4 separate regions of the Homo sapiens genome follow, and all the other regions are reported to be linked to region 4. The links are microRNA targets in miRTarBase. Many come from high-throughput screens and were not tested one by one. Region 4 holds a microRNA gene; each other region holds the end of a gene's coding sequence.

Region 1 (7,115 bases), not on the chromosome of region 4:
TCACTTCCCAGGTGCATGTCCGTTCCGAGGAATGGGATTTAATGACCTTTGATGCCAACCCATATGACAGCGTGAAAAAAATCAAAGAACATGTCCGGTCTAAGACCAAGGTTCCTGTGCAGGACCAGGTTCTTTTGCTGGGCTCCAAGATCTTAAAGCCACGGAGAAGCCTCTCATCTTATGGCATTGACAAAGAGAAGACCATCCACCTTACCCTGAAAGTGGTGAAGCCCAGTGATGAGGAGCTGCCCTTGTTTCTTGTGGAGTCAGGTGATGAGGCAAAGAGGCACCTCCTCCAGGTGCGAAGGTCCAGCTCAGTGGCACAAGTGAAAGCAATGATCGAGACTAAGACGGGTATAATCCCTGAGACCCAGATTGTGACTTGCAATGGAAAGAGACTGGAAGATGGGAAGATGATGGCAGATTACGGCATCAGAAAGGGCAACTTACTCTTCCTGGCATGTTATTGTATTGGAGGGTGACCACCCTGGGCATGGGGTGTTGGCAGGGGTCAAAAAGCTTATTTCTTTTAATCTCTTACTCAACGAACACATCTTCTGATGATTTCCCAAAATTAATGAGAATGAGATGAGTAGAGTAAGATTTGGGTGGGATGGGTAGGATGAAGTATATTGCCCAACTCTATGTTTCTTTGATTCTAACACAATTAATTAAGTGACATGATTTTTACTAATGTATTACTGAGACTAGTAAATAAATTTTTAAGGCAAAATAGAGCATTCAAAGCCAGCTTGGAATTTAATTCTGTCTTGATACCTTGTTATTTATGCAAAAACTCCTATCTCCTTTCCTTTATGACAAGAGAGTAAGTTTTAGGTTGGGATCCATGTTCTACTGATTTCTGTATTTCTGTCTTTGTTAAGTCCAGTGCTTTATTTATATCACTCAATAATGGTTGAACCAAATTGAATTTCTACTTATAGAGCATAGTGAAATGATATTTTATAAAATGAATTAGTTGCTCTGACATGATCACAATCAAATTACTAAACATTTTAGAAACTAAATTAAACTCCTTCCCCCCTCTTCTCCTTTAAAGCTATTTGTATGAAATGAAGTCTGGCACCATGCCCCCTTTTATTCTCTATGTCTCACACCCAACTAAAATAGTTATTATTTCTGGGGATGATGGTGGGCAAGGAAAGGTATTTTCCACAGGGATCTAGCAATTCTGTTTAACTAGTGGGGATTCCTAGGGGTAGATGGACATTGGGAGCGAACAAACTTTCTAAAGCTGGGGGACTGTGGACCACCCTCTCTCCTACCTGCCTTAGGGTCTAGCAGGTCTTCTCCAGGATGAGGGCGCCAGTCTGGGTGAGGGTGGGTGAGGAGCTGGCTTCTGGGTTGACCTCAATATTCTGCTCAGGTTCTGCTGATTGAGCATTTTCCTCTCTTCTTTTTTTCATGAGGAGATCCCTGTTCCTGTCTTGAGAACTTGAGTCCCTTCCTCCATCTTCCTCCCTCCATTTACTCCTCTCTCTGACTCTCTCTCTTGCTCTCTCTCTCATGACTCACTACTGATCACCTGTGAGTTTTTTTCACGGGCTGAGACGTGCCCGCCTTCTTCCACACTCATCCTAGTTCCTTGTTTCTTTAAAACTTGCTCAAGAACCAACTCCTGCAGGGGGGTTTCCAGTCTTAACCCCACTCAGCAAAATTCACCACCATTTATGGGCTTTCCTCATCACATTTATGGGTGAAATGCCCCGGGGAGGGCACTGGTCATCTGGCCAGGTCTGCACTAAGTTGGACTGATTTCTGAGAATAGAGTCCATGGTCGCTTTTTCTGGATGTACCCTCTCCTGCAGGGTAGGGACTATGATTTTCTTGTCAACTTGAGACTTCTGATTGCAGAGACCAAGAGGTCTTCCATGGTCTTCCATCAGATAGGGAGGAAGCTAAAGGCGAGCATCACGTCCATCATTTTCCCTGCGCGTGGAGTTGTGAGGGGTAGGTTTTCCTTCCCTAAACCTGAGTATATAGAGGATTTAGGGATTTTCCCTCAAGAACTAAACATTTCCTCACGGGAGGAAAACATATCCCCCATTGGACTCCTTAGGACAAATCTTGCAGATTATCATACAAAAATGAACAGCCTGAAGTCTAAACTGACTCACTAAGGGGTATTTCCATCCTTGGGTTCTGGCTTAATACTTTCTCCCCTCCCCAACTACTCACTGCCCAGCCTGGCCTCTCCCCAGACTCCGCAGCAGCCTCCTCGCTGCCCCCTTCACTTTCTTATTCCTGAGGGTGTAGATGAGCGGGTTGAGAGCAGGTGTGACCACGGTGTAGAAGAGCGATACGAACTTGCCCCGTGCCTGGTTGTAGCGCTGCGCGGGCTGCAGGTAGGTGTAGATGGCCGAGCCGTAGAACAGGCAGACGGCTGTCAGGTGGGACCCACACGTGCCCACCGCCCTCCTCCGGCCTCCGCTGAACCGCATGCAACAGACAGCTCGGGCCACGGCACCGTAGGAGGCCAGGATGACGGCAAACGGCAGCAGCAGGATGACCACGCGGGCGGCGAACATCTGGTTCTCGGTAGTGTCTCCGTCGCCTCCGCAGGCCAGCTTGAGCAACGCCGGCAGCTCACAGATGAAGTGGTCCAGCAGGCGGGGCGCGCACAGCGGCCGCTCAGCCAGGAGCGCGGTTTGCGCAACCGAGTTGGTGAGGCCGCTTAGCCAGGAGGCGCTGGCCAGCGTGCGACATAGGCGCGGGGAGACGAGCCCCGCATAGCGCAGCGGGCGGCACACTGCGGCCGCGCGGTCCAGAGCCATCACCGCCAGGAGGACGCATTCGGCGGAACCCAGAGCCAGCGATGCGCACAGCTGGGCCGTGCAGTGGCTGCGCGGCAGCCAGAGCGCTGGTCCGCGCAGGTTGGCCAGCAGCGGCGGCACCACGCTAGTAGTGAAGCCCGCGTCTACCAAGGCCAGGTGGCAGAGGAAGTAGTACATGGGCGTGTGCAGGCGCGGGTCGCGCACCGCCAGCAGCACCAGCGCCGAGTTGCCCGTCAAGGTCAGGAGGTAGCACAGGAGGACAAGGGCGAAGAGGACCGGCTGCAGGGAAGGCCAGTCGGAGAAACCCAGCAGGAGAAAGCGCTCCTCTGCGCTGTAGTTGGCCTAAAGGAGGAAAACTCCCAGAATGTTTGGAAGGTCGAAATAAAAAAGGGTGACTACCCCTTATAAGCAAAGGGAAAACCTTGGAGTGTGGGGCTGGGCTGGGAGAAGGAATGGAATCATATACAAGGTCAGTTTGTGGATTGTAATCCCATTTACAGATGAGATTACTTAAAAATAAACTCCCTAAGAATAAGAGCAACACTCCAAGCTTGGCCTGGCCAACACTCGGTAGGCAGAATGATCACCTCCGTTGTTTCAGGTACTCTGTGTTTATTTATGCAACAGTTCATGTAAAATGGAGACGAGGCCAGAAGAATCCTTGAGCAGACAGAGCCAGTTGGGCCTCCTAAGTGACCTTAACCTTGCTTGATTTGCAAGCATGTCTGAAACTTTATTTGTGGTATTTCTTGTAAATGCCTATGTTAAAGAAACACAGAACTTAAGCTCAACCAATCAGAAGCAGCCAACAAAAACGTAATTAGTAACTAGGACTTCCTCATGGGATAGACCAAATAAGGCAACTGTATAACTGTGTAACTGTATAACTGTAACCAATGAAATATTATCTTTGCTTTTATCTATTTGTCCTAAAAAGCCTCCTCCTCATGTTCTCTCTGGGGAGCTCCCTAGCCACTTCTGGATCACTGCTCAAATAAACTCTTAAATATTTTATTGGGCCTTAGTTTACTTTCTAACACAACCCATTATACGGCTGATTACTGATTTTTAATTTGTTGTGAATAGAGACTACTCCCAACGTCCATGCCCCTCCCACTGAGGGGAGATCAGCACACGTATACTAGCCTTTAAATCAGGAATAAGTTGGGTAGAAAAAAAGAACACTTTCTGGTAGACTAGAATATCAGGACATCTTGGTTTTACCTACATAGCTCCCTTTAGCCAGTTATATGATATGGGGAAATCTTCATTTCCCTCTGTCTCAATTTTTTCATATGTAAATCAAGGAGTTTGAACTAGATGTCATCTAAGTTTCCTGTCCCAAATCCTTGGCTTTACTATCAAATATTAATCCAAAAATAAAATAAAAAGAGAACCCCAGGGAACAAAAGGAACCTCATTCTCCAAGGGTCTTGTTGAACCAAGTGTCTTAATGGTACAGAAACATATGGGTTATGTAATGGATGAAAGTTTACGTGATGGACAGAAATCTTTCTGCTGCATGACTCCTGACATAAATTATTATATGGATAACTTATTTTTCACATCATATTCACTGCTGTAAATTACAAAATCACAATAACCTAATTTTTCATTTTTCAGAGGGAAAAAACACTGCTCCCTACCAAAACATCCTGTTTGATTTTATGTTTCACTCATTTTATCCTCACTGGGCAGAATAAGCATTAATGTCATAATTAAGAACCAGGGCTCAGCAGCCAGACTGCCTGGGTTTGAGTCCTGGCTCTGCCATTTTCTAGCTGGAAAACCTTGGGTATGTTACTTAGCCTCTCTCTGCCTCAGTTTCCTCATATGAAAATAGAAATATGTTAAGTGGGCTAAATATGAAAAGCTGTTAGAACAAGGCCTGGCACATAGCAGTTGTTAACTGTCATCCTTTAATAAATGCTAACTATCGTCATATCTGTTTCCCAAATTAAGAAACAGGTTTTTAAGGGGTTCTTATGCTAGGCAGTGATACAACTGCTATGAACATTTACAGCTCTTTTCATTTATTAACTCTAATCTTAACTCACTTGAATATTAGGCAATAGCCTTATTTTATAGAGTATGTTAGGAGAGTAACTGAAGTTAAATTACTTGCCCAAGGCCACATTATTTGTAAATGCTTAATAGGTTTTCCACTTATATTTGACTAACTTCGAGGTCCTTCCTGTTTGATCAACCAGGATCCACTGTGCTAGAGACTGTGGAGTATGAAAGGACATGCAAAGTCTTACCTATATTTATAGATCATTTTATAATTTGGGGTCATATCAGAGATGAATAAAGTAGGAGAGGTGACATTCAGGCTTACAGACCAATGGTGGCTAGAGATGTTGAGTTACAAAAGGTCAAATTCTTTAATGCGGTGATTACACGGACACATAACTGTTCAGCCTGGCAAGCTCTAAACCATTCCTCTTCAAATATGCCACACCATGAAAACAGGCACACAATAATAAAACTGCACAGATAACATTCTTGTTACATGTATGCACAAATTCCCCAAAACATAGGCATGTGTGCACCTGTACACATAAACCCATCATCTCCCTCACACATCTAGAAGACAAATCTGTTGTGAAATATATAATATAATGTGTCATCAAACTTCACTTGGTATTTCAGAATGTGGCTCTCGGCACAAGACCATTTTGTTGTAGGGCACTGTAATACCCAACTTACCTTCATGACTAATCTTTGGCACTAATGTTTACACCTTGAGTTTCCAGATGATAGGTTGGTCTCTTGCTCCTGCTCTGGATTCTCTGGATTTGAAATGGAGTTGGGAGTATTTAATAAAAGATGCAATTGCATAGCTGTGTTGATTTCTGGAATGGATGCCTGGGATCAGAGCCAGGTATTTCAGGAAGAAGACGAGGGGTGGGTGTCATTGTGCTTGTAAATAGAGGAATAAAAAGAACGGGTAAGAAAGAACCTACATTTGTGAAATTTCAGGATCTAGGCAGAGGTGGTGATGTCTGTTCCTGGAGAACCTTGTAATGGGGTACAGACCAGACAAGGACCTGGGCCTTGTGCTGGTAGCAAATCAGCATTAGCTGGTGGTGGTAGCAAATATCCCTCCTGGATCTAAAGGACACAGTTAGAGAGGAGGAAGCATGCTGATGAGTGCTCTCACTAGAGAAAAAACAGGGGACTCAACGTTCCCTGTTATTTAGAAGAGAGGATGGAGCTCTGGGGAATAGATGTCCCACTCCTATCATTAGTACTTTGCATGAAGGTGTCCGGAGAGGAGTCCCCAAGAGTGGGGAAGAGGAAATTCTGGAGGGAAAGTCCCTTTAGGGTAGTGTGCCTCTGGCAGTGTATGAAGGCCAAAGGCAGCGTAATTCCCTCTCATTAATATTTCTACTATTCAATTGGAACTGGTTTAGAATTTCATTCTCTGATGGAGTGACCTTAAGCTAATTGTTTAACTTCAGTGACTCTCAATGTCATCATCTGTAAAACAAGGAAAATAACCCTTTCTGTCAGGAATTTTGTAGATTTGTTGAAGTCATTATTAGTTTTGAATGTAGCTTTGACTGTTATGTCATCAGCTTTGCTCCAAAGTCCACCTCCCCACTTGTGGCTCTCATCATTCTCTTTCCCTTTGCTCCTCCTTCGTCCTTGAAGATTTTTGTCCCTGATCCCCTCTCACTCTCTCCAGTACTGTGATGATTCTTGGTGAATTCAGTATCCTCATAGATTATCTTTCTATACTTTCCTCTCAGTTTCTTCCTCAGTGAGAGGTCCGCAAATTCATCGTGGCCCCTCACGCCCCTTGTATCTTCAGTTCTCTATCAAGCTTAGACTGTCTCGTCAATCACTATTACTCCTTTGCATACATCAATGTTCCTGCCCTTTTCACTTGTTACACTCTTTCAGCTAAATTGCTTTCCTATTTAAATCCAACTATAGTCCTACTCTCTCCCTATATTTGTTCAGCTGACTGTGGCCGAAGGAAAGCCAATAGCCACACTGAGAGGTTTCACTTTACATTCATGACCACTACTTTAAGAGGAAGGGGCTAATGTCATTGATAATCATATTTTCCTAGTCCACTCACTTTCCCCTCTCCTACGTAACTCATGCATACTTTCTGGTCTCCCCTCAAATCCCCAGTACTCCTCTCTCTCAAATAATATCATCTTTCTCAGATAAAAATTTTACTTCATTTTTTACTGAAAAAATGTAAAGCAATAAAAAGAGAAGTTCTTACTAACCCATCTGTTCACCTACTTGCATCTGTGCTCACATATGGGACTCCACCTTTTCTTCTGATACTGCTAGGAATAT
Region 2 (7,116 bases), not on the chromosome of region 4:
ATTCTGTAATTTTGTAATTGAAGGGCCTTTTCCCCAATTCTGGCAATCCTACTCCAGAATAAAGGAACTTATATTACCATGTTGTTCAATCTTCACATTAGAGAGAGGAAAATAACATCTTTGTAAATTAGGTAGTTTGCCCCATACAAGTAGAGAATGTTAAGCAAGGACCATCATCCACTTTTTAACTCCTACTTCTGGTGGTCTTCATACTATATGATCATTCATTGAGCAACCATGTGCCTAACAGCATGTGGCATCATGAGGAATACAAAATAATACATGGCCTCTGTTCTTGGGTAGCTTAAGTTTTAGACCAGTTTTAAGATTTTACAGTAAATACTAGCTTTGCTAGTAAACATAAAGCCACATAGCTCAATGAGGTTTTATTATTTTATGGATTTTTTTTTTTGAGATGGAGTTTCACCCTTGTCACCCAGGCTGGTGTACAGTGCCGCAATCTCGGCTCACTGCAACTTCCACCTCCAGGGTTCAAGTGATTCTCCTGCCTCAGACTCCCGAGTAGCTGGAATTACAGGCACCCACCACCACGCCCAACTAATTGTCTTTTTAGCAGAGATGGGGTTTTGCCATGTTGGCCAGGCTGGTCTCAAACTCCTGACCTCAGGTGATCCGCCCGCCTCAGCCTCCCAAAGTGCTGGGATTACAGGCATGAGCCACCATGCCCGGCCTTTATCAAGTATTTTATTTGAAATGTAACCTGGGAATTTTTGAGAGCATTGCAGGACACTGTTTTTGAGGCATCTCTGGGCTGGAATATCTGCCTTCTTTGATGGGAGGATGGTCTCCTTTTTTTTTTTTGAGACAAGAGTCTCGCTCTGTTGCCCAGGCTGGAGTGCAGTGGCGCGATCTAGGCTCACTGCAAGCTCTGCCTCCCGGGTTCACGCCATTCTCCTGCCTCAGCCTCCTGAGTAGCTGAGACTACAGGCGCCCACCACCACACCCGGCTAATTTTTTCTATTTTTTAGTAGAGACGGGGTTTCACAGTGTTAGCCAGGATGGTCTCGATCTCCTGACCTCATGATCCACCCGCCTCGGCCTCCCAAAGTGCTGGGATTACAGGTGTGAGCCACCACACCCGGCCAGGAGGTTGGTCTTAAGGGTAAATTTTTTTTTTTTTTTTTTGAAGAGGCAATTTAATTGACCAAGTTGAGAAAAGTCATTGTGAATGTGTGTATACATGATTGTGGCCAGTTACTCATTTAAAAAGAAACTAAAACAAAGCCAGAAGGAATAACATCCTAGAAAGTGACAAATGACTCCTGCAAGATACATAAACCTAACCTTCTAGATACATACACAGAACCTTCCATATTGTTTTCTGCAAGAAACAATATGCTCTGGCCCATGATACTTCTGCAGAGCAGCCTCCGTTTTTGGCAAATTCACTTCAAATTCAGCCCAGCTTTATGACCCCCCGTCTGGTTGGTCCTGTAAAATCTGATAGCCGATATACTGAACACCTCCTGTGAGCGTCCTGTGTTACATACTACATAGGTTTCCCCTTGAGCCTTAACACCTCTGAGACACAGGTATTATTATCCCTATCCTATAGATAAGGAAACTAAGGCTCAGGATGGTTAAATAATACATCAGTTATCTTACTTACGATGTCAGGACTTGAATCGAGGACTCCAGAGTCCCTGCTCATAACCATTAAGCTGTACTAACATACATGATGTATTGTTGTTAAGGCCCTGCACACTCCCTGCCCCCACCAATTTGATCTAACTTGAGTATCTTTTGCTTGTAAGAGTCTGAAACATTTTAAAACAAAGAACGGACCAGGCACGGTAATCCCAGTACTTTGGGAGGCCAAGGCAGGCAGATCACAAGGTCAGGAGTTCCAGACCAGCCTGACCAACATGGTGAAACTCCATCTCTACTGAAAATACAAAAATTAGCTAGTTGTGGTGGTGTGCACCTGTAATCCCAGTTACTCGGAAGCTGAGGCAGGACAATCACTTGAAGCCAGGAGGCAGAGGTTGCAGTAAGCCGAGATCGTGCCACTGCACTCCAGCCTGGGCCACAGAGCCAGACTCCGTCTCAAAAACCAAAACCAAAACCAAAGAACAGCCTCTGTGTATAAACCCTGTGAGAAATGACTGCTCCTTTGCTACAGATAAAGAACTGGAGCTAGGCCAGGCAAGGAGGCTCACACCTATAATCTCAGCTCTTTGGGAGGCCTTGGCAGGAGGATCACTTGAACTTAGGAGTTCAAGACCAGCCTAAGCAACACAGCAATACAGTGAGACTTCTCTAAAAACAATTTTTCAGCAAAAACAAACAAAAAACCAAGACTAAAGAGAACAGGGTTAGAAATATCAATCAGGTTGCCGGGCGCGGTGGCTCATGCCTGTAATCCCAGCACTTTGGGAGGCCGAGGAGGGTGGATCACAAACTCAGGAGATCGGGACCATCCTGGCTAACACGGTGAAACCCCATCTCTACTAAAAATACAAAAAATTAGCCGGGCGTGGTGGCGGGCGCCTGTAGTCCCAGCTACTCAGGAGGCTGAGGCAGAATGGCGTGAACCCAGGAGGCGGAGTGCAGTGAGCCGAGACCGTGCCACTGCACTCCAGCCTGGGCAACAGAGCAAGACTCCGTCTCAAAAAAAAAAAAAAAAATCAGGCACAAAGAAAGAAAAAAAAAAACATATTTGGTGACATCAGAGGTCCTTGTCCGTAAGAAAATATTTTTGAGAAAGAAAGATGCTTTTGTTCATGGCTACTGAGCTGCCCTCAGGCAGTCACTGAGGATGCTTTTTGTAGTTTAAGAAGCTAAGACATGAGAGGAAGGGCAGGAGTCCTGCCCCTCCTCAGAGAAAATCTGAGCAGAAATTAGGGATTCCCATTCCATTTGGAATGAGGTCCTTTTTTTTTTTTTTTTTTAATATCAACGAGGCTTGTGTGGACTGTTATTACCGAGTAAGTCACAGGGTCTGGTCCTGGTTGAGATAGACATGAACATCACTTCTCAGATATGCTCAAGAGAAGCCCAGCAGAGCCCCACACCTTCCCCGCTAATAGGAAACTTGCACACATTATTAATGAAAAGGGAAGTAGGAGTTTCCAATACTAAATGTTCAGCAGAAAAGGAGCAGGGCCATCTTCTTGCACTTTCTAGACAATCAACCAACTTCCATTTATTTTCACAACTGTGGCTAAACCAGAGGTTCATCCAATGGTGACAATGGAAAACCTAGTAAGCAAAGAGTAAATCTGGTTATAGTCAACACCTGGATCCACTCTAAGGGAATGGTGCTTATGTGTGATAGTGACAGCTTCTTGGTCCAAAAGGCTGACAGATGAAGAGCACGTTTCTGGGGTTTCCCCTTTCCTATCTTGTCTGGTCATGACAAGCAGTTCTCATGTATTTCTTTAACTGAAGTGTTAAATTGCATGGTTTCTCTCAGGAGCACTTGATAGGCCAAGAGTTTCTCCTCCACACTTTCTGTTGGACACCTTATCCTTCCCACTGATCCATTTTACTTACCCACTTTTGAATCTTAAGCAAACACTCTTTGGAACTGGCCTGCAGTTCTAACTGATAGGGGATTGATGAAAGAAAAGAGTAACAGTTGAACTCTCTTTTATTCTTGGGCTGAGGCTTAGTATCGCACCTGCTTCCGTCTCTCTGGGATGGCCTTGCACATCGCCTTTCGTTCCATCTGAGGGCTCTTCCTTCATTCGTATTTGAATTGTGTTCACTTTTTGCCAAAGTTTAGGTCCCTGCTGGCTACACAGTTCCTTTCAGAAGGGACTGCGGGATCTATCTGCAGCCATTTCAATCCACAGGTCTCTTTCACTAATAAGCTGTGTTCTTGGCAAATCTTTGAGTAAAAAAGTATTTAAAGTGTTACCTAGTCCCACATCTCACCTACTTTAGGAGTCCCTCCTCCAGCATACCCTGGCAAATGCTTGAAATCCACTCAGAAAAGGGAACTCAGCACCTAGACAATACTTTGGCTCTTCTCCCTTTTCACTGGGGAAATCAAGGTGCAAACTAGAGCTGAATCTCACATTCAAGTTCCTAGTGGGTTGCCAATGAAGCCAGAACCTTGGCTTTGGGATTCCCAGCACCCCTAAATTTTCCCATGGTATAGGTCCAGATTCTGGCTAGAAAGCTCTTAATCCCAATATGCTAGGGTATTGCCCATCATGTCTTGTTCTGTATTATTGGGCTTTTTCACTGTAAGTTATGACAGCAGACACACATTTCTTGTGTCTCCCATGGTCCCTGGTATTGTGAATGTCATGGAGCAGATGTTTTCTAAGTGTGATTATCCTACAGAGCAACATGTTCAGACATAGCCTTCCCAGAAGCAAAGTTAGCTGGGCTAACACCTTCTTCTAGTGTTGTTATGCATAACTAGAGAGAGTGAAGGATGGGCTAGGTGATGAGCAAAAAAATGGGTCCTTTCCTTATCACTTCATCAAGAAAATATCCTGTCTAAACATTTCCAGACCTTGTTCTAGACCTCAGGAAGAAGCAGAGGAAACAAGAGTATAGGAATAAACCAGTTTCCTGCCCAAGATGTAAGACTTCTGCATTCTGTCTTCTACCTCAGGATTCCAAGTGGGAGTAAAACAACAAATCAAATAAATTTTAGTCAAGTTTCAACAAGAATTTATCTGCTTTGACTTTGCTGTCTTATTTAGCTTTGCCTGGACAGAAGCCAAAGACAGAGACAGAACTTTGGCAGGAAAAGGAATGTATCACAGACTTTTTTTGAATAATTCCTAGAGGCTCACTTTTTTTCCTTTCAACAGCCTCATTGTGCAGATGAAAATTTGAGATCCATAAAGGAAACAGAACTTAGGCCCAGTTGCAAAGCCACTTAGGAGCAGACTCAGATGCTCCCAGGTGATTAAATCACCCCAAGAAAAGAACATGTGGTAGTCAAAGTCCCTAAAAGCAACACAGGCAAGAACAAACTGTTGTCTATGCATGGTGCTTAGCTCTCAGTGATCTAGGAATTTCCTCAATCTGTCCACTGCCAATGGGATACAGCCAGATAGGGTGAACATACACTCTCTCTGATGGCTCAAGGAAGCTGCATTATAACACTGTTATCATCTCACTACTGAGGACCAAGAGTTCACTGGCACTTTCTGAAGCTCCATGCTTCTGGAAAGTGCTGTGATCTTTGTTGCTGATGATTGTCAAGAATATCAGACACCAGGAATGGAGAAGCCAACTTACTGGCTTGGAAAAGATAAGAATTTGATGTGAACGACTCTCAGAACATGGTGTAGGCACAAATTTTAAGCTGTTCTGTCATTGTTAAGCCAGCTATTTCTCTGAGATCTCTAGCTTTTAAAGCTGGGGCTAAGAAAACCGTTTCCAATTTTTTTAACCAGGACCTTGGCAAAGATTTCTGGCAGTTTAAATGGCAATAAGAGCCTGTTTCAAATCAAGCCAGTATAGTTAAGGAATATTCTCCTTAATAATCTTTTAAAGTCAGATTTCTTGTTCAACCAATATTAAACAAAATTTATGTGAATAATTAATCTAAGAAACCTAGGCAGGCAGTCTTGAGTTACCATGTTTCAGGGAAAGACAGCCACAGAGGTGTGTGAACAGATCTTGGCTGGTTTTGAGAGAGGAGGCAGCAACATAAACAGTGGCTTAAGCACTTTCTCCAACAACCATCTTAGCTATCAAAGAACTAATAAAAGGCTTTATAGTTAAACATTCTCATGCCTTATGATGGGCTTCCAGTTTTGGAGGCTCTTCTCATGTATCTGTCTCTACCTAGAGACATAATCTACTATCAACCTGCTGTTCTCTGAGAACAAGAGAACTAGAGGTTAAATCCTGCTTTCCAACCTCTCCGCAATATTCTTGTAACTTCTGCTTTTGTTGTATCTTTGAAAAGATGGACATGCTGGGCTCCTTTCCAGGTCTTTCTGGGTTTCAAAATGTGGTATTCTTGTAAGGGTGTGAAATTCCAAAACACAAGCATGTCTCTAGTCAAGTGTATAGGACCCCAAATTCATTGATGTGCCAGATAATAATTACTGTGGGTGTTGGATGGGGCTCACAGACCTTCTCTTGGATTTTGTGCCCTGCTGTGAGCATATACAAGCATGAAGCCACAGAGATTTGGATTTACAAAACTCCCCCTCCACTCCCTTCCCCATACCACTGGTTGGTCTCTAGACCTTCAGTGTTGACACCCAGGCCAGAAGTTTCAAGCCCAGTTATGAGGGGACCTGGTGGGTTGGGTGGCTGACCTGATGGGTCACTATCACCCCCACAGCCTCCATTGTGGCCTGAACGGAGGTGGTCCTTGAGTGTCTGTTTGTAGCGGAAGCTCCTGCCACAGTAGGAGCAGGGGTAGGGCCGCTCCCCGGTGTGGATGCGCTGGTGTTTCATTAGGTGGTGCTTGCGGATGAAGCTCTTGCCACAGTGAGGACAACTGAAGGGCCGCTCGCCTGTGTGCAGCCGCCGGTGGTTCAGCAGGTGCTCCTTGCGCATGAAGCTCTTACTGCAGTCAGTGCAGGGGTAAGGACGCTCGCCTGTGTGGATCATCTGGTGGCGGATCAGGGCCGAGTGGCCGTTGAAGTCAATGCCACACTGAGGGCAGGAGAAAGGGCGCTCTTGTGCATGACCCCGCTGGTGGAGCAGGAGGCTGATTTTCAAGCTGAAGCTCCTGCCGCACTGGGCACAGCGGAAGGGCCTTTCGCTTGCATGAGCTCTCCGGTGGCTGGTGAGTCGAGCCTGGTCAGCAAAGCGCTTGGGGCAATCAGGACAGGGGAAAGGACGCTCAGTGCTGTTATGGACCCGAAGATGGTAGGTAAGTCTTGATGGGTGAGTAAAAGTCCTGGCACAGTGTGGGCAGGTGGGGGGTGTCTCGCTGGCATGGTCCTGGGAGGTGCTGCTGAGGTCCGCCTGTGGAGTAAAGTGCTTAGGGCACTGGGCACAGGGTAAGGGGTGCTCAGTAGCATGGCTACATTGGTGGGTCAGCAACATGTCTTGGCTGAGATTCTTGCCACAGTGGTGGCATGAGAACACCTGCTCGCCAACTGGAGGTGGGAGGGGATAGCTACCCAACTGAGTAAAAGTCACTTGTCCCTCAGAGGCTTCAGG
Region 3 (7,116 bases), not on the chromosome of region 4:
GTTATAATCCTTTAAGCGGCGCTGTCAACCCATTTCACAGATTCTTTCATCCACTAGCTCAACAAATATGGAATATTACGTGCTGGCCGCAGGGCGGAAGGCAGGACAGATGTAAATCTCGAAAATTAAAGCACAGAACGCGGAGGGGGCCTGGGGCTGACAGCTTCGGGCAGGGGGAGTGGCTTGCCCCCCCCCCCCCCCGTGGTGAGGGGCGCAGAGCCAGGTGTATGTAACAGCCACTTCCCTCACCCCACTTTTCAGATCCAGGAGATGGAGGCCGGGGTGGAAGTCTCGGAGGAGGGTGGATGGGGAAGGCGGGGCCTTAGGGACCCCTCACCTAACGCGTGCCCCCGACCCCACCGCAGGGACTCGCAAGAAGCTGCGCCTGTACCAGTTCCTGCTGGGGCTACTGACGCGCGGGGACATGCGTGAGTGCGTGTGGTGGGTGGAGCCAGGCGCCGGCGTCTTCCAGTTCTCCTCCAAGCACAAGGAACTCCTGGCGCGCCGCTGGGGCCAGCAGAAGGGGAACCGCAAGCGCATGACCTACCAGAAGCTGGCGCGCGCCCTCCGAAACTACGCCAAGACCGGCGAGATCCGCAAGGTCAAGCGCAAGCTCACCTACCAGTTCGACAGCGCGCTGCTGCCTGCAGTCCGCCGGGCCTGAGCACACCCGAGGCTCCCACCTGCGGAGCCGCTGGGGGACCTCACGTCCCAGCCAGGATCCCCCTGGAAGAAAAAGGGCGTCCCCACACTCTAGGTGATAGGACTTACGCATCCCCACCTTTTGGGGTAAGGGGAGTGCTGCCCTGCCATAATCCCCAAGCCCAGCCCGGGCCTGTCTGGGATTCCCCACTTGTGCCTGGGGTCCTCTGGGATTTCTTTGTCATGTACAGACTCCCTGGGATCCTCATGTTTTGGGTGACAGGACCTATGGACCACTATACTCGGGGAGGCAGGGTAGCAGTTCTTCCAGAATCCCAAGAGCTTCTCTGGGATTTTCTTGTGATATCTGATTCCCCAGTGAGGCCTGGGACGTTTTTAAGATCGCTGTGTGTCTGTAAACCCTGAATCTCATCTGGGGTGGGGGCCCTGCTGGCAACCCTGAGCCCTGTCCAAGGTTCCCTCTTGTCAGATCTGAGATTTCCTAGTTATGTCTGGGGCCCTCTGGGAGCTGTTATCATCTCAGATCTCTTCGCCCATCTATGGCTGTGTTGTCACATCTGTCCCCTCATTTTTGAGATCCCCCAATTCTCTGGAACTATTCTGCTGCCCCTTTTTATGTGTCTGGAGTTCCCCAATCACATCTAGGGCTCCTCCAAGATCCTTTTGTCATGTCTGAAATCACTCTTGAGAGGTCTGGGGTGGAGGATGGGGAGTCAGTGAAATGTGTCATGTCTGGGCCCTGTCAGGGACACCCTTGTTATATCTGGGATCCTCCAATCACATCTGAGACCTCCTAGGCTCTCCATCTGATATGCCCTTTCAGGGACCCCACAAAGACTGAGTTCTCATGGGGATCCTACCCTTCCTAGTGCCACTCCCTATGGCCATGCTGAAGACCACTCTGGCCACGCGACTGATTTTGGGTGATCATGGCAGCTCCCCACCCATGTCATTTCTAACCAGAAGTCTCAAGGTCGTCACCCCCCTGCCCCCCAACCGAGGCCCCGGTCGCTGGTGGTGGTCTCTTTAGTGCACTGTAGCACTTGGTGGTGGAGGTGTGAGGGATCCACATTAACAGCAGGCCATCAGCTGGGCAATGGCTCACACCTGTAATCCCAGCACTTTGGGAGGCGAGGCAGGGGGAATGGCTTGAACCCAGGCATTCAAGACCAGCCTGGGCAACATAATGAGACCTCGTCTCTACAAAACATAACAAAAACAATTAGCCGAGCGTGGGGGTGAACACCTGTGGTCCCAGCTGCTCAGGAGGCTGAGGTGGGAGGATCTCTTGAGCCCAGGAAGTAGGAGGCTGTAGTGAGCTGTAATCGTGCCACTGCACTCCAGCCTGGGCGACAGAGTGAGACACCGTCTTAAAAACAAAAACAAGGCCGGGCACGGTGGCTCATGCCTGTTGTCCCAGCACTTTGGGAGGCCGAGGCAGGCGGATCACGAGGTCGAGAGATCGAGACCATCCTGGCCAACATGGTGAAACCCTGTCTCTACTAAAAATACAGAAATTAGCTGGGCGTGGTGGCACGTGCCTGTAGTCCCAGCTACTCGGGAGGCTGAGGCAAGAGAATCGCTTGAACGTGGGAGGCAGAGGTTGCAGTGAGCCTAGATTGTGCCACTGCACTCCAGCCTGGGGGACAGAGCGAGACTCCGTCTGAAAATAAAAACAACAAAAACAGCAGACCATTCAAAATAGGGAGACTTTGCATAATCCAGATTTCTGCCTTCACTTAAAACTTTGGACGGTCTGGAGAGAGTCGGCCAGTTTTCGGTGGGGGGTGGGGAGCTGGAACAGGACAGTAGCCTTTCCTAATGAGGCATTTGTTCTCCAATCTGCCCCAGTCGCTGCCATCCCTGGCTATCTCACCCTAGCAGCTTCTCAAGCCTGTTGGCTTTAGACCACTGTATAAACCCAGCTGGAACTGAAGCCTGGGTGGACTATGGAGCCCTGGTTGGGACCCCCAGGGAGTCAAAGGCTGCGGGCCAAGAGGCCAGAGGTCCTTGAGCCTGGGTGGGCAGGTGGATCTAGGGTGCATGACTTGCTGCTTCCCAACCTTAGTTTGTCCCTTCTGTGAAAAAGGGAGAGAAGGAGGAGGAAGATCTCAAAAAGACTTTCCAGCCCAGTGCGGTGGCTCACGCCTGTAATCCCAGCACTTTGGGAGGCCGATGCAGGTGGATCACCTGAGGTAGGAGTTCAAGACCAGCCTGACCAACATAGTGAAGCCCCTTCTCTACTAAAAATACAAAATTAGCTGGGCGTGGTGGCATGTGCCTGTACTCCCAGCTACTTGGGAGGCTGAGGCAGGAGAATCGCTTGAACCTGGGAGGCGGAGGTTGTAGTGAGCTGAGATCACACCACTGCACACCAGCCTGGGCGACAAGAGCGAAACTCCGTCTCAAAAAAAAAAAACTGTTGCAGCCCCGTTGAGCCTTTGACACCGCCTGAAATCCACCCCACTCCCAGGAGGAGGAGGAGGAAGGAATGCCAATGACCTAGAGACACGAGAAGTCCATGTGGAGGCACACAGCAGCTGATGGCAGAGCCCAGGCTGGGACCTGCCCTTAAGAGAATGAGTGGGAAGGGGGAGGGAGGAAGGGCAGGTAAAACGTCCTCCCCAGGGCCCCCTGCAACGGGGAAGGTACTTTTTACAAAAGCTATCATTGTCACCCTAAATGTGGAATAAAATAAGATGCATCGACGTAGACAAACCTCCTGGGACCTTTTGTCAGGGACTGCAATCCTGCCCCTCCACTGAGGCCGCTGGCTCTCAGAGACACCGTGACATCACGGGTGATGATGAGAGGAGTTCAAAGAGAGAATTATATGCTGGCGCGGTGGCTCTGTAATCCCAACACTTTGGGGGGCCAAGGCAGGAGGATCGCTTGAGTACAGGAGTTTGAAACCAGCCTGGGCAAGATAGTGAGATCCCCTTCCCACCCGTCTACAAAAAAAATAAAAAATTAGCGGGGTGTGGTGGCGTATGCCTGTAATTCCAGCTACTCCGAACTACTGAGGTGGGAGGGTCACTTGAGCACAGGAAGTTGAGGCTGCAGTGAGCCGTGATCGTGCCCCTGCACTCCAGACACGGCGAGACCCTGTCTCAAAAACAAACAAACAAATCACAAAGACACCATACAGCAAAACCTATCTGAACCTTAATGCCGAGAAATAAGAGGCTTGACGCGCAGGCACAGAGGGTTCCGTTTATGTCTTCCTCTATTCCTGCCAACTGAAGTTCTCCACCTCCTCCCCGCTTCCCCTTCCGTCTGGGTGTCTGTCCCCTTCCCTCTGAATTGAGCCCTCGGGCTGGCAGCGAGGGACGCGAGGCTTCAGGTGGCCGCGGCACTGCAGGCCTGGGCCCCTCCCCAACTTAGCGGGGCTCGCGGGAGCGCAGTGGCAGTCTGCCTGGCAACCCGTGACATCACATGGAACTGACGCCGGATTGGCTGGACGCTCCCCGGAGGCGGAGAAATTTCCGGCTCGTAGGGGGTTTTGGAAAAGGAGGAGGGGGAAGATGAACAGGAAAAAAAAGCGGAGGGACTTGTTTTCCTCACACCGGGTCCCTCACGCTGCGTTACTAGCCAGGCAGTCCCCCAGCCTTAACCCTAAGTCCCCAACACCCTTTCCCTCCTTCCTCCCCACAACACCTGGTGTCCCCAAGCCCCGCCCCTCCCCAGGCCCCGCCCCCTCGGCTCCCCGCCGCGTCCAGAGCCACCCCATTCAGAAAGTCACAGGTCCCCCTGCCGGGAAGGGCGCCAACGTCCGGGCAGCCCTCCAGGGCCTTCCCAGCCTCCCACCCGCCCCCACCGGGGACGCCCACCCCCTACCCGCGTCCGGTGCCTGCCGTGCCCGCTCCGGGAAGAGTCGCGGGGAGCGGTCCCAGGAGGGGCGGCGGCCAGTCCGGGGTCCCAGATGGCCGGGGCCCCAGCTCTTTGGGTTTGCCCACGCCCGGGGCGCGAAACTCCGGAGTCCCAGAGCCGCGGCGCCCTCCCCGGAGGCGCAGGGACCTCCTCCCCCCGCCGCCGTCCTGCCTACGCTAGGAAACCGGACCCTCCCTCCCGGCTCCGGTTTCCCGAAAACTCCTGACTTGCAGATGCTAAGAATGGCTTCCTAGACCCTGTCCCTCCCCTCCCTGCTTCATGCCAGAGCTCTGGCCCGCAGCCCTTACCCCCTTGAGACCCTCAGTCTCTTCCTCTTCCTTCTCCCGGGACCCAGGCGTCCAGGCGCTCGTCCTTTCTAGGGAACCCAAGAATCTGGGACCCCAGTTGCTTCTGCTCCCAGACTCAGGGGTCCAAGCACCCAGTCCCCTCCTCCCTGAGATTCTGGAGTCCGAGCCCCAGCCCCCTCCTCCCTCAGACCCAGGTGTCCGAGCCCCAGCCCCTCCTCCCTGGGGACCTGGCTCTCAGCCATCTCCCTAGGTCCAGCTGTTATTTCTCGCCCTTTAGAACATGCGGGCGGAATGTGGGGCGGCCCTGTGGTCTGATGTCTCCCGGAGCCTTCTGGGAGTCTCAGGACTCATTAAAAGGCTCCCCTTAGGGGCCCACCTGTCCTCCCTAGGGCCTAGCGGGACGCGGCTGCGGTCAGAGGAGCAGGAGGAGGTCCCCCGACATGCCTGAGGCAAAACCAGGTGGCGCCAGGACCCCCTCCCTGTGTGGGGATGGGGCTCTTCTTTTCTGGATGGGGATTTGGGACCCCTCTGTTTGTAGGGTTGGGAGAAGGAGGAACCTTCGCTGTGTGAGGAGGAGGCTCCCTTTGCTGTGCGGGATGGGGGTTCCCGCATCAGTTTAGGGTGAGGGTCTCGACTCTGCATGGGGAAGAGGGTCCCTTCCCTTTGTGACAGGAGTTTCCTTCCTTGTATGAGATGGGGTGGGTCTCATATCTGTGTGGGGTGAGGGATCCCCTTCACTCAGCAGGGAGGGTGTTTCTTTTTCTATAAGTGATTGGGGGGGCATCTCTGGTGGAGATGGGATTCTCTGGTTGTAAATTGGGTTCCTTTTGCTTGATGGGGATGGGGGTCTGTGTGTGTAGACTGGGTTTTTTTGTTTGTTTTTGTTTTTTGGTTTTTGGTTTTTTTTTTGAGATGGAGTCTCGCTCTGCCCCCGGGGCTGGACTGCATTGGTGCGATCTCGGCTCACTACAACATCCGCCTCCTGAGTTCAAACAATTCTCCTGCCTGGGGTAGCTGGGATTACAGGCCTGCGCCACCATGCCTGGCTATTTTTGTATTTTTAATAGAGACGGGTTTCGCCATGTTGACCAGGCTGGTCTCAAACCCCCAACCTCAGGTGATCCACCCGCCTCAGCCTCCCAAAGTGCTGGGATGACAGGCATGAGCCGCCGAGCCCGGCCAGACTGGGAGGTCTTTGCATGTGACTGGATTCTCCACATCCGGGGATGGCATCCTCTGGGCAGGGTCTGGGCCACTTCTCTGAGTGAAGACTCAGAGGGAGCCAGGTGCAGGGGCTCACGCCTGTCATCCCAGCACTCTGGGATACCGAGGCAGGAGGATTGCTTGAGGCCAGGAGTTCAAGACCAGCCTGGGCAACATGGCGAGACCTTGTCTCTACAAAAAATTAAAAATCAGCCAGGTGTGGTGGTGCATGCCTGTAGTCCCAGATACTTAGGAGGCAGTTGAGGCTGCAGTGAGCTGTGATCACGTCACTGCACTCCAGCCTGGGTGACAGAGTGAGACCCCGTCTCTAAAAAACAAGCAACAGCAACAACAAAAATGGCCCAGTGCGGTGGCTCATACCTGTAGTCCCAGCACCTTGGGAGGCCAAGGTGGGTGGATCACCTGAGCCCAGCAGTTCAAGGCCAGCCTGGCCAACATGGCAAAACCCCGTCACTACAAAAAATACTAAATTAGCTGGGCTTGTGGGGGTGTGCCTGTAGTCCCAGCTACTCAGGAGTCTGAGGTGAGAGGATCACTTGAGCCCAGGAGACGGAGGTTGCAGTGAGCCCAAATCTTGCCACTGCACTCCAGCCTGGGAGACGGAGCGAGACCCTGCTGGGAAAAAACAGAAACAAAAACAAAAAATAGATTCCAAGGGACCTTCTCTGTAGGATATGGGGTGATTGTGGGTATAAAGATTAGTGGTTCCCATCTGCATGGAGTCACAGGGGAAGTCTCTGTATTAAGGATGGGGGAGCCTCATTTCTGTGGGCACTGAGGCTTCCCCGTGTAGGAATTAGCGGGGCTTCTTCATGCAGGGAATGGGGTCCTTTTTGCGGGGTTTGGGGACCTTCTTTGAATGGGGAACACTTTCTGTGGAGATGAGGCTTTCTCTCTATGAGGAACTCACCGCAGGAATCATGCACCGCTGGGCGGACCCCCTCCTGGGATGTCTGGTCCGCTGGCATCAGGCCAAGCAGGCTGTGGGGTGGGTCCAGCCCCTACTGTAGCTGCAGACCCAGCCGGCAAGGAACAGCAGGCAGGGCAGGGG
Region 4 (7,116 bases):
AACCTCCGCCTCCTGAGTTCAAGCTACTCTCCTGACTCAGCCTCCCAAGTAGCTGGGATTACAGGCATGCACCACCACACCTGGCTAATTTTTGTATTTTTAGTAGAGACAGGGTTTCACCATGTTGGCCAGGCTGGTCTCGAACTCCCGCCCTCAGGTGATCTGCCCGCCTCGGCCTCCCAAAGTGCTGGGATTACAAGCATGAGCCACTGTACCCCGCCACCCACATTTTCAAAGTCACTCCAGAACAGCCCTGCTCCTGACAGCACTGGGCGGCCATCCCCTCTCCCCTCCCTCAGCACTTCCACAGCCTCAAAGAAAACAGAATGGAGAACAACAGGCAGGTTGATTCATAGACTTTATCGGCTTCTTCTCCACCCAGCGGTTTCTGCAATGACAACCGCGCCTGTACAATACACATGGTTCACTCTGTTAAAGCTGCAGGGCAACGGGAGGGGGCTGGGGGTCCCTGGGCAGGCATCAAGGCTAGGGGTAAGCAGCAGCCAAGACTGGGCCAGTGGGTCCCAGTGTCCGACCCAGAGGGTGGTGGCAGCTGGAGTTCCAAGGCTGTTGGAAGGGGTCAGGAGGAAGGCTGGGAAGCCAGGGGCTGCAGGGAGAGGAGAGTGCATCAGCAGTAGCAGGGAGGGGGCAGGGAGCAGAAGGGGGCCCATGGGACACTGTCAGGGCAAGAGGGCATGGGACACAGCACCTCCTATGTCCATAGAGGATTTTTGCTGCAGGAACAAGACAGATCACTGTATAAAAGGGTCTGTACAACATTACCTATGATACAATGTTCACATATGATACAAGGCTCTTTCCCTCTTTGAGTTTTAAAAAATAAATGTACAATTCCAGAGCTTTGGGTAAAAAATATATACACCCTCATAGCAGGAGCAGCAGCTGCTTTTGCTACGGCTGTTGCTGTCTCTTCAAAAGGGAAAGAGGTGGTGCCAGAAAGAAGGGTGAGTCTGTGCCAGGAAACCTCACCCAGTAGCTGCCAGGAGCCCCTGCACCCCTCAGGCCTTGAGGCTGGTGATGGGAGAGGGAGGGGAGTAAAGGTAATAAAGGCCTTGCCAGAGTCCAGTGGCGCCTTTACAGTCTCTGCCATCCCCCTCCCCCACTTTGGGGCTGCCTGCCCCAGGTATAGGGATCCACCCCACCCCAGCTCTATGGGGAGGACAAAGGGAGAGTCAAAGAGAGAGGGACAGAGACCATGTTGTTGGTGTCAGACACATGAGCCAGAAGGGGGATGTCAACTCCCTCCTTAGCAGTTAGATATCCCAAAAAGCAGGAGTGTGGGCAGCAGACAACCCTAGCTCCTGATACTGCTCTACCCGAGCCCACTGCAAGGCAGGGGGAGGGTCCTCTAGGCAGCTGAGGCCTGTGTTTCCCTGAGCATCTTTTACCCTCTCATCAGAGCCCATCCCTGGACCTTCCAGAGGCCTGAGTGGGGGACTTGCAAGGGCTGATGGGTAACCCCTCCCACCTGCTGCTACTCCCTGCCCCAAAAAGCAGCTTGGCTCACAAGCCTGGGCATGCAGGGCAGCACGAGGAGCTGAGCAGGGAGTGTGGGGGTGGAGAAAGCACCCCGCACCATCCAGGGGCAGAGTAGACAAGGGTAGCACCAAACAGAAGGACCCCTCCCCAGCACACACAACATCCACCCTCAATTACCAGATGCACTCCTGCTCCCTAAAAGAAGACACACACACACACACACACACACACACACACACACACACACACACACACACACACACGGCAACATAATATTCCTGGGGGTCCCAGCCCTGACCAGGAAGAAGCTGGACAGGTGGTGGAGAAGAAGGCTGCCAATCCCTCCCACAATCCCACTCTGCAAGACAGAAGGGTGAGCAGCATTCTTTCCTGCTGCAAGAGGAAGTTGGAAGCTCCATCCCCAGAACAGATCTCGATGGGAGGACATAGAGGAAGGAGCTTTCTATCCCCTTTCTCAGAGGGGACAGGAACCAGCAAAGTGTAGTTTTGGCTTGAAGGAGCAATGGGGAGGGGACTTCAGCAGGATGAACAGACTTATGGGTCCAGGGGTAAATCCATCGACCTCTTTCCCGTGGAGCAGGAAGTTGCTCCACGGGAAAGATGTCAGATGTTGGTTGAGACATCGTGCAAAGTGCTTGAGTGCCAGGTGCCCAAGGATCTGGCGGGTCTGACTGGAGCCTCCACTCTCACTGACTGTTTGCCTCCAGCTTGTAGGAGAGCTCGAAGAGGAGGTTCTGGTTGTCGATGACCTGAAACTGGCGCACATAGGCCTTGGTCTGCAGGTGATTGGGGGATGCCTCCATGTCCAGGCCTAGTGGGTAAAGAGGGAGAGGCAGTCAGGTTCCCAGCTTCCCTTCTTCCTCTACACACACACCGGGCAGAAGATCAGGCTGTGGACTGAGACAGATGTTGGGCAGGAAGGCCTCTGCAGAGGCAAGGAGAGAATGGGGAACCAGCAAGTGTATGGAAATACACATCTGGACAGGGAGTTCTCCCCTGAACCCTCCCGTTCAGTCAAAGCTCTATCTGTACTGCTCTCAGTACCCTGGGTACTCACAAAGGGGCCGGCTCCGGTATTTGCGGATTGTCCTCACTTTTTCGGCCACTGAATGCTGGGAGATGACAAGGAATGAGCCTTGAAAGGGGCACAGAAAGAGGCTCCCCCTCTTATGCTCCCCCTCCGCCATTCTCCCACTCTGCTTTACTCCCTCCAGTCTCCAATTCTGGAGGGTCTCTGAAGGACCAAAGGAGTGGGTGTAACAGAGTGCCATGTGAGGGGGAGGTGAAGTTGCCCCCAAGCTGCCTGTCAGCTCTGCCACCTGTGGGTGGGTTGCCACAGTGATGCCACCAGGGAGACAGTCAAGAGTCTGTTAGGCAAGCTGGGCACTTGGAGGAAGGCTGCTATTTTTGGGAGGTGATGAGAGAGGGAGAGGATGCAAGCCCCCCACTTGTGGGACTAGGGGTTTGCAGTGCCACTCACTCACCAGCTTCTCGATGTTCACCAAACCATCTACAAGGGTCTTACTCCCTTCGTGCAGGAAAGTCAGGTCTAGGGGATGTGGAGAGAATCCAATGTGAGGAAAGGATAAGAGAGGAGTTCGAAAGGGGCCACTGCACCCGAGGACCCCGCTCTTCCCCAGAACCCACTCCGTCTGTGGTGGGGGGCTCCTCTCCAGGTGGGTACTCAGGGCTGAGTCGAGAGGGAGCTGGAAGTCAGAAGCAGGGCATAGGAGAAGGGAAGCATGGGTGGAAGCGGCACAGCTTGGGAGTAACTCTCTCACCTTTGAGGATCAGAGGCACGAAGGGAATCACAGGGGGCTTCATTTTGGAGATCACTTCTCGGTAGCTTTTGTGGTTCCTGCAGGGGTCCTAGTATTCCACAGGAGAGAGATCAAGGGACAGACTGGCCAATGCATCCCAAAGATGTCCTCAGCTTCCTCCCTCACCCCCTGCCTTGTATACATTCCTGATCAGATAGGGGTGCTGGGGGCTTTCTAATGGTGTGGTGGGGAGGGACCTGACTACTCCCCCTTTCCTTCAAGAAAAACAGGGGCGCAATCCTTCCAACCTCACCCTCCAGCATGGTAAGGAGGGTGGGGGGTCCCATACACTAAACACCTTGAAAGGAAAGCTTGAGGAAGGGGGTTTATGGGAACAGAGGGTTTCTGGGCTCTCAGTCCAAGAGCAGAAGAAAGAGCCAAACCCACTCACCGTCAGGTTCTCAAATTTGCGAAACAAGTTCTTGAATTTCCCTGGCAGCTTCTGCAGAGTTTGAAGGAAGGAGAAGGGATATCAGAGTGGAGCTCCTTGGGTTACATGGGAGCCTCGGATTAATTCTCCCTGTTGGAGGGCAAAAGGGCCTGCATGGCTTGTAGGGGGCTGGGAAGCTGGTGGGTGGGGAAATGAAGTCAGGCCTTGGCTAAGTCTAGAGGCTTGAAACAGCCCAGAGGAATTCATTATTCTGGGGAAGGCCAGGTCTGTCTTATGCAGGTGCTTTGTATAAAGATGCCCCCACTGAGTGTGGATGAAAATCAGCCCAACTCCCACAGCCAAGTCTGCGACCTGACCTGGCCAAGGGCTGCCTGCCGTGACTCAGGCGGGATCCGGGCTTTTCACTAATTTGCACAAAGACAGGGTCCATTAGCCAAGCTGTGCGCCCTGGGGTTGCGTATGCCAGAAGAGGGCGCCTCCCTCCAACTGGCGCAAAGACTCCCTCCAGGCCGGCGGCCGTCCCGGGAGGACGCACTTCGGGGAGCCCGGGATGCCCAGATTCCCAGGTAGGAACGGGAGGGGTCTCATCACCTCCCAGGTGAGTCGAAGGCGGCTGACAGCGGCGTTGTCCAGCCCCATGACCACGGCGTAGAAAGACAGCAGGTCCTGGTTCTGCTTGCAGCTGCGGGGGTGGGAGGCGGGGTCAGGGGCGGGCGGCGGCGCGGGCCTCCGGCCTCCGGCCCCCCATCCCGCCGACGGCCGCACTCACAGGGCCGCGATCTTGATGAACTTCTTGAGCAGCTGCGCGCGCTTGCCCGGGGCCTCGCAGAGCAGCACTTCGGTGGCCACCCAGTGCGTGACCTCGCTGCAGCGCTGCAGCAGCAGCTCCAAGTTGGCCGTCTCCCGGCGGCCGCGCTCCCCGTGGAACACGTAGTCCACGAACTCCAGCTGCACCCACGGCAGCGGAGGGGCGGCCAGGGCGCCAGGGGGTGAGGGGAGTGGGTGGGAAGATGGCAGTGCAAGGCGATGAGGAGCGAAAGGCAGGAGGGCGGGGGCGGAAGGGGTGGAAAATAGAAAAATAGAAAGGACAGGAGGCGGCAAAGATGCGGAAAAAGAAAACAACCAGCATTAATAATATTTCACCAGCTACTGAGCACTTACTAGGTGCCAGGCATTCGCTCACGGCTGACATCCTCAAGACAACCATCTGCTAGGCATTATTGTCTCTGCCTTATTTTATTTCTTTAATAGTGAATATTTTAAAAATAGAAATCCTGGGTCAGGTTCTGTGTAAACAGCACTTGGGCCCTGAGCCACTGTGCTCTGGGGTCTCTCTCTTTGCGATTTTTTTCAGATGGGGGAACAAAGGTTACGGCCATGCGTTGCCCAAGGGCTTGCTGCAAGTGAGCCTTGGAACCAGGACGTTGTGCTGCGAACACCGTCTCCCAATGGCACATTTCTCCCTCCAGCCCCCCAGCATAGCACCAGCCTCGGTCCCCACCTCATGCACACATCGGAACAGCTCCCAGTGGAAGGCAGTTAGGTGGTTGGCAACGTCCTCAGGCTCCACTCGGTGGATCTCTGTGTCTCCAGGGGAGACCTGGATCTCCTCGGGGAGGGGCACCTGGTGGCAGGCAGGGGCATAGGGGCTGGGCTCCTGGTGGCAGGGTGAGGGATTGCTCACAGCCCTCCTCAGCCCTCCATTCCAGTCAAGGCCTTGGGAAGTTCTTACCAGAGCCTCATAGCTGTCCCGAGTACAGGCAAACAGGTGGCTGTTGATGCCCAGTGCGGTGAAAACACAGTCCTCAGTGGGCTGGAGAAGGACCTTCTCTGCAGGAGAAAGAGCTGCTCATCCTCGGCCCCTGCCGCCTGCACCCTCACACATCCCACACTGACACTGTCCTATCCAAAAACTCCTCACCCCACACTGACACATTCTAGACTAATGGAACTCATCTTATCACTAGTTTATGCCATATTTATCTGGAATTTGTCAAATGATTATTTCTTTTGCATTTATAACTTTTTTTCTACTCCCTTTCTTTCACAGCTTTTCTCTTACTCTGTTGTCCTTGTGACACTGGGAAGGCTGAAATTTTTTCCTACTGTAGAGGAAAACAAAGCTTCAGTGACATTGCTGGCTTTCTGCCTTCCCACTCATCCTGTGTCTTTAGCCTGTGAAATGTGGCATCCTTACATACACAGGGAGGTTAAAGGATCAGAATACAATCCATAGGTGAGTGAGGGGCAGCACTCAGATCAGAACCTGAGTCCTAGACCAGTGCCTCCCAAACTTTTTTTTTTTTTTTGAGACGGAGTTTCGCTCTTGTTGCCCAGACTGGAGCACAGTGTCTTGATCTCGGCACTGCAACCTCCGCCTCCGCGGTTCAAGTGATTCTCCTGCCTCAGCCTCCCAAGTAGCTGGGATTACAGGTGCACACCACCATGCCCAGCTAGTGCCTCCCAAACTTTAGTAGGCATAGGAGTCCCCTGGGGGGTCCTGTCCAAATGCTGATTTGAACAAGACCAGCAGGTCGGGGTGGGGTCGCAGATGCTGCATCTCTTTTAGAGACAGAGTCTTGTTATGTTGCCCAGGATAGGGCGCAGTGCCTATTCACAGGTGCAATCATAATGTACTACCTTGGATTCCTGGGCTCAAGCAATCCTCCTGCCTCAGCCTCCTGAGTAGCTGGGACTGCAGGTTTGCACCACTGCACCCAGCAAGATGCTGCATCCTAACAAGTTCCCAGGCGATGCACATGAGGCTTGTCCCGGGACCATACTTTGAGTAGCAAGGGCCTAGAATTCAGTCTCTACCCCTCCCCCAGAGCCCTGAGCTTGTGAGTTTCTCCTCTCGGAGCATCAGCCCAGTTCTTCCTGACCCTCACCTCCAGAGGAGGACACAGCTACCAGGATGAGGGAATCCTCACGCCCCGCGGGCTCCTCTGAATATTGAAGTTTCTCCGTCACAGAGCCCAGAATGTCCTGCACAGATGCTGAAAGGCGGCTGCGTATGGTCACATAAGAGTGGTCAGGCATGTATACACGGCAGAAGACTGGACGGAAACAGGAAAATGGCTTTCAACAGAGGGCAGAGTGGCAGCAGCTGGCACAGTCTCCTCCAGGGTGCCTCTATTCCCCACCAGAGGCTGGCCTCTGAAGAAGGTCCTGTGAAAGGGGCTGGTTCTACCACCCAGGGAGATGCCACTGAGGGTGCTCAAGACCCAGAGATATGTCCCCCTGAGCCACTCAGGACACCCTGCCCCTCCTAATGCCCACACTCACTCTCATCAGAGCCCCGGAAGGCCACCCGGGTCTGCAGACAGGAGTCTATCCGGCGGAAGTGGCGGAAGAGTGGCTTCACCTGCTTGCTGGGTGGCTGGT

The links. Region 4 holds the annotated microRNA hsa-miR-6867-3p (CUCUCCCUCUUUACCCACUAG, at 2,333-2,353, opposite strand). A microRNA usually pairs through its seed, bases 2 to 8, with sites in the 3' UTR of a target mRNA and lowers its output. Matches are read on the target gene's strand: a 7mer-m8 pairs with bases 2 to 8, a 7mer-A1 pairs with bases 2 to 7 and ends in A, and an 8mer does both.
Region 1: the mRNA of UBD is a reported target of hsa-miR-6867-3p. The part of its 3' UTR that is shown has no 7-base or 8-base seed match.
Region 2: miRTarBase lists ZNF398 as a target of hsa-miR-6867-3p. Seed matches in the 3' UTR shown: 8mer at 3,993-4,000.
Region 3: the mRNA of SPIB is a reported target of hsa-miR-6867-3p. Seed matches in the 3' UTR shown: 7mer-m8 at 2,367-2,373 and 7mer-m8 at 2,751-2,757.

Annotation. Positions count from the first base shown.
Region 1 is chr6:29,549,247-29,556,361 of GRCh38, reverse strand. UBD (ubiquitin like modifier D) reads left to right here. Exons shown (of 2, transcript NM_006398.4): 2 at 12-847. The coding sequence ends at 482. It overlaps OR2I1 (olfactory receptor family 2 subfamily I member 1 (gene/pseudogene)), which reads right to left and starts at 5,955. Exons shown (of 2, transcript NM_001396058.1): 1 at 5,505-5,955; 2 at 1-3,137. The coding sequence starts at 5,510. The coding sequence ends at 2,196.
Region 2 is chr7:149,178,821-149,185,936 of GRCh38, reverse strand. ZNF398 (zinc finger protein 398) reads right to left here. Exons shown (of 6, transcript NM_170686.3): 6 at 2,895-7,116. The coding sequence ends at 6,136. Among named protein-coding and RNA genes, the nearest start is that of ZNF282, 13 kb to the left of the region's middle.
Region 3 is chr19:50,427,673-50,434,788 of GRCh38, forward strand. It overlaps SPIB (Spi-B transcription factor), which reads left to right. Exons shown (of 6, transcript NM_003121.5): 6 at 366-3,642. The coding sequence ends at 664. MYBPC2 (myosin binding protein C2) reads left to right here and starts at 5,220. Exons shown (of 28, transcript NM_004533.4): 1 at 5,220-5,300. The coding sequence starts at 5,282. RefSeq lists enhancers at 1-558, 559-1,131, 687-976, 5,026-5,784, 6,599-7,099 and silencers at 4,337-4,426, 4,457-4,676.
Region 4 is chr17:40,188,880-40,195,995 of GRCh38, reverse strand. It overlaps MIR6867 (microRNA 6867), which reads right to left and starts at 2,399; the gene lies at 2,333-2,399. It overlaps RAPGEFL1 (Rap guanine nucleotide exchange factor like 1), which reads right to left. Exons shown (of 15, transcript NM_016339.6): 5 at 7,018-7,116; 6 at 6,621-6,788; 7 at 5,465-5,562; 8 at 5,234-5,356; 9 at 4,502-4,680; 10 at 4,324-4,414; 11 at 3,733-3,783; 12 at 3,303-3,390; 13 at 3,006-3,070; 14 at 2,579-2,633; 15 at 346-2,332. The coding sequence ends at 2,208. RefSeq lists enhancers at 1,379-1,428, 1,053-1,553, 4,255-4,334 and a silencer at 4,455-4,514.